Homo sapiens: one gene and its partner. The protein of the gene in region 1 interacts with the protein of each later gene in a pairwise test. Each region holds a gene or a part of one and is shown in the gene's direction. Other genes may lie near its edges. The genes, in order: LATS2 and HGF.

Region 1 (3,832 bases):
CGGCCTGACTGCCCAGTGCCCAGCAGGACCAACTCCTTCAACAGCCACCAGCCGCGGCCCGGTCCGCCTGGCAAGGCCGAGCCCTCCCTGCCCGCCCCCAACACCGTGACGGCTGTCACGGCCGCGCACATCTTGCACCCGGTGAAGAGCGTGCGTGTGCTGAGGCCGGAGCCGCAGACGGCTGTGGGGCCCTCGCACCCCGCCTGGGTGCCCGCGCCTGCCCCGGCCCCCGCCCCCGCCCCCGCCCCGGCTGCGGAGGGCTTGGACGCCAAGGAGGAGCATGCCCTGGCGCTGGGCGGCGCAGGCGCCTTCCCGCTGGACGTGGAGTACGGAGGCCCAGACCGGAGGTGCCCGCCTCCGCCCTACCCGAAGCACCTGCTGCTGCGCAGCAAGTCGGAGCAGTACGACCTGGACAGCCTGTGCGCAGGCATGGAGCAGAGCCTCCGTGCGGGCCCCAACGAGCCCGAGGGCGGCGACAAGAGCCGCAAAAGCGCCAAGGGGGACAAAGGCGGAAAGGATAAAAAGCAGATTCAGACCTCTCCCGTTCCCGTCCGCAAAAACAGCAGAGACGAAGAGAAGAGAGAGTCACGCATCAAGAGCTACTCGCCATACGCCTTTAAGTTCTTCATGGAGCAGCACGTGGAGAATGTCATCAAAACCTACCAGCAGAAGGTTAACCGGAGGCTGCAGCTGGAGCAAGAAATGGCCAAAGTAATTTCACACTTCATTTTTACTATTTGTTCCCGGCTCATCCCTCTACTGGCAATAGGAAGCACGCACAATCCCTTTTCTGTTTCGACTGTATACCCCTTATCATCAAAACGGCTAATGGGCGACAGTCTGGTTCTGGGGCCAACAACTTGGAGAAGTTGCAAATGGTGTGACCTCCCTTTCGCCTTTCCCCTTGACTCTTCTGAAGAATCAGAGATAGCTGTGCATAATGTAGCCAGCGTAATGTAGGTAATCTACAATTTACATTGTAGGTAAATTAGCAAATTAAGTTTTAGGGTATGTCCTCGCTTAACAAAATTCATCATGGATTAATAATAGAACATTTGAATGAGTAGAAACAAAGTTTAAGGTTTTGTAAATTGAGATTGTGGGATTTTGGAAGAAAAATGTATCTAGTAGTGATTCCATTTATTCTTTTAAGTGTTTAGTTAGTAACTAATGATTTAAATATACCTTAGTTGACACTGAAGTGCTGAAGAAGGTAATTATTGATGAAACTATTTAAATTAAAATGTAACAGATTTAAATCACACAAAGCCAATAATTCCAAAGCCTGAAAACCAGATTTGTGTTCTTTTCAGTGTCCCGTATTCACTGATTTTTTTACAGATATACTTTTCATTTGTGTTTTTTTTATTTTTATTTTTTATTTTTTAATTTATTTTTAGACGGAGTCTTGCTCTGTCACCCAGGCTGGAGCGCAATGGCGCGATCTTGGCTCGCTGCAACCTCTGCCTCCTGGGTTCAAGCGATTCTCCTGCCTCAGCTTCCCGAGTAGTTGGGGTTACAGGTGCCTACCACCACGCCTGGCCATTTTTTTGTGTTTTTAGTAGAGACGGGGGTTTCGCCATGTTGGTCAGACTGGTCTCGAACTCTTGACCTCAGGTGATCTGCCCACCTCGGCCTCCCCAAGTGCTGGAATTACACGTGTGAGCCACCACACCCAGCCGTTTATTTTTTATTTATACATAGTATTTGTAGATTTGTGGGGAACATGTGATATTTTGTTACATGCATAGGATATGTAATGATCAAGTCAAGGTATTTAGAGTATCCATTGCCTGGTGTATTTATCATTTCTGTGTTGGAAGCATTTCAAGACCTCTCTTCTAGCTATTTTGAAATATTGAATACATTTTTACTAACCATAGTCATACTAGTTAGAGTTTGTTCCTTCTATCCAGCTGTATGTTTGCACCAATTAACTTCTCATCTCCCCTCAACACACACACACCCTTTCCCACCTCTGGTAACTATCATTCTACTCTCTACCTCTATGAGATCAATTATTTTAGCTCCCACATATCAGTAACAGTGTGTGGTGTTCTAACCGAACTTCTGTTCCTGGCTTATTTCACTTAACATAATGACCTCCAGTTCCATTCATGTTGCTCCAAATGACAGGATTTCATTCTTTTTTATGGCTGAATAGTATCCCATGGTGTACACAGACCACATTTTCTTTATCTGTTCATCAGTTGATGGACACTTCAGTTGATTCCATGTTTTTACTGTTGTGAATAGTGCTGCAATAAACATGGGGTGCAGGTATCCCTTTGATATACTGATTTCCTTTCCTTTAGATAAATACCCAATAATGGGTTTGGTAGATTGTATGGTAGTTCTATTTTTAGTTTCTTTTTTTTCCTTTTTGATAATAGTCGTTCTAACTGGGGAGAGATTATATCTCATTGTGGTTTTCATTTGCATTTCCCTGATGGTTAATGAGCATCTTTCCATGCACCTCTTAGCCATTTGTGTATCTTCTTTTGACAAGTGTCTATTCAGGTCATTAGCTCACTTTTTTTTCTTTTTGAGACAGAGTTTCGCTCTTGTTGCCCAGGCTGGAGTGCAATGGCACGATCTCAGCTCACCACAACCTCCGCCTCCCGGGTTCAAGTGATTCTCCTGCCTCAGCCTACCGAGCAGCTGGGATTACAGGCATGCACCACCACGCCCAGCTAGTTTTATGTTTTTGTAGAGACAGGGTTTCACCATGTTGTTCAGGCTGGTCTCAAACTTCCGACCTCAGATGATCCACCTGTCTCAGCCTCCCAGGGTGCTGGGATTACAGGTGTGAGCCACCGCGCCTGGCCTTATTTTATTTATTTATTTTTTAATTAAGACGGAGTCTTGCTCTATTGCCCAGGCTGGAGTGCAGTGGTGAAATCTCGGCTCACTGCAACCTCTGCCTTCTGGATTCAAGCTATTCTCCTGCCTCAGCCTCCTGAGAGCTGGGACTACAGGTGTGCGACACCATGCTCAGCTAATTTTTGTATGTTTAGTAGAGACGGGGTTTCACCATGTTAGTCAGGCTGGTCTCAAACTCCTGACCTCAAGTAATCCGCCTGCCTCAGCCTCCCAAAGTGCTGGGATTACAGGCGTGAGCCACCATATCTGGCCTTTTGGCTTACTTTTTAATGGGATTATTTGATATTTTTTTTGCTGTTGAGTTGAGTTCCTTGTATATTCTGAATAATAGTCTTTTGTCAGATGAATAGTTTGTGAATATTTTCTCCTGTTCAACACAGGTATCCTCTTTACTCTGTTGTTTCCTTTGCTCTGCAGAAGCTTTTTAGCTTAATATAGTCCCATTTGTCTACTTTGGGGTTTTTTTGCCTGTGCTTTTGAGATTTTAGCCATAAAAATCTTTGCTCAAACCAATGTCCTGGAGTATATTTTCATAGCCTCTGGTCTTATTTCTAGGTCTTTAATCTGTTTTAAGTTGACATTCCTATATGGTGAGAGATTGGGGTCTAGTTTCATTCTTCTGCATATGGATATCTAGTTTTCCCAGCATGTCTCTTTTTCAGTGTACATTCTTGGCACCGTTGTCAAAAATCAGGTGGCTGTAAATACGTGGACTTATTTCTGGGTTCTCTATTCTGTTCCATTGGTCTATGTGTCTGTTTTTATACCAATACCATGCAGTTTCAGTTACTCTAGGCTTGTAACATATTTTGAAGTCAGGTAACAATTTTGTTCTTTTTGCCTAGGATTGCTTTGAGTATTTGGGCTCCCTGTGAATTTTAGTATTGTTTTTTCTAGTAATGTGAAAAATATCATTGGTATTTTGATAGGGATTGCATTTAATTGGTAG
Region 2 (3,101 bases), on another chromosome or scaffold:
TTAAAAGTGTTTTGGTCATTAAAAATGTACTTAAATAGGTTAAATCTAAGCCTTGCTGCTGTGATTGGCTTCTAGCTCACTGCCTTTAAATTTTAAAAAATTTAAGAGGAAAATTTCCAAGTCTCCAAAGTTTTATAAATACCCTTCATCAAGTCATGCATTAAAGTATATATTGGAGAAAAAAATAAAAATACTTTTCTCAACCTGGAAGATTTTAGCCTAATAAAGCTTTTTTGAAGTAAAAGACAACTTGTAAAAGGAAAGAAACTAGTTTGTCTCAACTCTGTATTCATTTATTTTTTTTTTGAAGTAGAGTGGAATCTGTTGAATCAGATATTTTATCAAGATATGTTTATTTTTTCTTATTTCATTTTACAAAGTTCACTCCTAATGCCATATGTAACAGACATTTAAATTTTGTGTTCTGTATAACAGCCAAATTATCATATTTATCATTGTATTTGTCATGCTTAGCTAAAGATCATGTATTTGTTGAGAAATAGAATAACAAAAAGTAATAGGATAGGCTTTGAATTTTTGCAGAAATCTTCCTGTACAAAACACCTTTAAAAATAATTTTTTGAATGGTGTGAATCCAGTAGTCCCATTTCTCTGACTTAGTTTTCTTGAGTGATTTTTATCAAGGCCAAGTCCCCAAACAATTCCCTACCAGCTCTTTAGAGTACTGTTCAATCTGGACTAAAATGGTTTTAAGTTTATGGAGAGCTTAGTCCACAGAATATAGGGCGGCGAGTCCAGAAATGCTTATACAATTTTTTTTTCATAATAAGATATGTGCTGGCATCAAGAAACTTAAAGTGGAAGCAAAAAGACATCCAACTAGTTGCTGGTCTCTATCATCTTATCTGATGGTATTTCTATTTTCCTTATATAATACACCATTTTAGTAAGAACTCCTAGAAATTTCAAGAGCATATTGCCAAAATATAAAGTATATTTCATAGTTTCTTCTGGCTGAACCAGTGAAATTTTATTATTGCATATTAATGATATTTGTAAAACTTTTATAAAAATTGTCATAATTTTAAATACTCACATTTTAAAAATACTTCTTTAATGACTCTTCCTCTAAATTTCCTGGAAATACAGATAAAGATTAGCTAGATACAAGATACAGCTAAGTATTTAGACATTTTGAGGCTAGTATTTTTCATTTTATTAAAGGCTAAAAACAATACCACCAATAAATCATCAAACAAACCGTACAAAGTAATTCTCTCTTTGGGAGGCTCCTTTCGTGATAGAGGGACATGGGTGGAATTGACAATGAAACTTAGATGAACAAGGTCCATGTTATTTTAGGTGGTAGAACAGGGTAGAGTCATGTCATTATTTGCTGGTGGAAGACACTATTTACCAGGTGTTCTTTGCTGAATAAATCATTAAACATTTTTAAAAATCCAACAATCCACTTTATTTTGTGTCATTGACAAAAGGATCTTTTAAATCAGAAGGTTTCAATGCAATTTTTGGTTTGGCTGTTTGAATAATGGTTATGTACTGTTATAATTGTAGACATTTTCTCACGTCTACCAGGAATTGAAGTGTAAAACTAAAATATTTTTCATAATGCCTCTGCCGTGCAGAAGGAATGATAATCCTTTTGTATACTTCTTTAATTTTATTGTAAAATGTGTAATGACTTTTACCTATATGCTGTGGGCAGGTCCTCAGTAAAATCTATTGAGTCAATTTCTAGTATTAACAGGCTTTTGCTTGCTATCTAAGTGTTTCAAATTATGGGAAGTGTGAGACACTGGAAGGCAAGAAAATTAACAATAATGGCATGTGATAGCAAAATTGTATTTCACTTATTCCTGTGAATATTTCTTGTTGGTACCAATGGTACTGTACAAAGTGAATGTTATAGCCACAACATTCTCTTGAAAAGAACACTGTCAAGAAGTGGGAAATTGCTGTCAGGCATTTCATTGTTGTTTTTAAACTTTTTTAAAAGAAATACTGGTTTTGCAATATAGAGATCATGTGGTAAAGAATTTTAATAAGATCTTATACTAAAAAGCCTTAAATCAATTTATTGAGATTCAAAAAATACTATTATAATTAATTACATCCCATACATATAGGCAAACTCATTTAAAAAATAAAACTAATTTTGGTAAAAGTACATGGCCTTTGTTTTTAAAATACATAATTTTAAAATAAATCACTTGTCATGATAAAGTCCAAAAAGAAGTTATCATTCAACATTCAACTAAGGTTGGAGCTAAGAATTTACTAATACAAAAAAAGTTAAAATTTTTTGGACCATATATATCTTGACAGTGTAACTTTTAAGTAGGTTCATTTCCATTTGCACAGAAAGTTTCTGTCTTTAGGAAACTGAAAATGAAATACTGTGGATGCTATGACTGTTTGTCTTGTATGTAAATAGGAAATTAATAAGCTGCCTATTGAGTGGTATAGCTGTATGCTTACCCAAAAAAGGGAACACTGTGGTTATGACTTGTATTATAAACTTTCTGTAGTTAATAAAGTTGTTATTTTTATAACCATGATTATATTATTATTATTAATAAAATATTTTATCAAAATGCTTATTTTCTCTGTTATGATTATTTACATGTACATATTTATATCTGTCTTAGGGCCTAAATGCAGAAAATAGCAATGTTGACTTCACTGACAAAAATTACATACACGTTCTTGCAAAAACTATAATACAACTTGTTTATAGAACTAAGACAAAAATCATTATTTTATTCCAACTAATATCCACAGCAATATAGTTGGTCTTCAGTAAACCATTAATCTCTATGTACTTTAGTTTCTCCCACCGTAAAATGTAACTATTTGTTTATTCTTCATATTTGCTAGAATGGTGCTATGTTGTTATTTGCCAATATATACAAAATATTCCCATGAATTTTCACCTAATTTCCTTTCTCATGCCACTATATAATACAAAGGTGATTTTAAATTATTTAATGAATCACTTTGGGTATCTCTTTAAAGTGTGCATTCAGTTAAGAATAAATAAGAATCCAATGGATTCATTTAATTCAAATTGGAAGAACTAGTCCTCAATGATCTAAGCAAAGAGAGCTCTATAACACCAC

The links.
Region 2: the proteins of LATS2 (region 1) and HGF come close enough for resonance energy transfer, tested with the Homo sapiens proteins (one large-scale study listed by BioGRID).

What each region holds. Positions count from the first base shown.
Region 1 is NC_000013.11:20,984,760-20,988,591, reverse strand, and holds part of LATS2 (serine/threonine-protein kinase LATS2), read left to right. Parts: coding exon 1-711; intron 712-3,832. UniProt on the Homo sapiens protein: Negative regulator of YAP1 in the Hippo signaling pathway that plays a pivotal role in organ size control and tumor suppression by restricting proliferation and promoting apoptosis.
Region 2 is NC_000007.14:81,698,485-81,701,585, reverse strand, and holds the end of HGF (hepatocyte growth factor isoform 1 preproprotein), read left to right. Parts: 3' UTR 1-2,576; downstream 2,577-3,101. UniProt on the Homo sapiens protein: Potent mitogen for mature parenchymal hepatocyte cells, seems to be a hepatotrophic factor, and acts as a growth factor for a broad spectrum of tissues and cell types.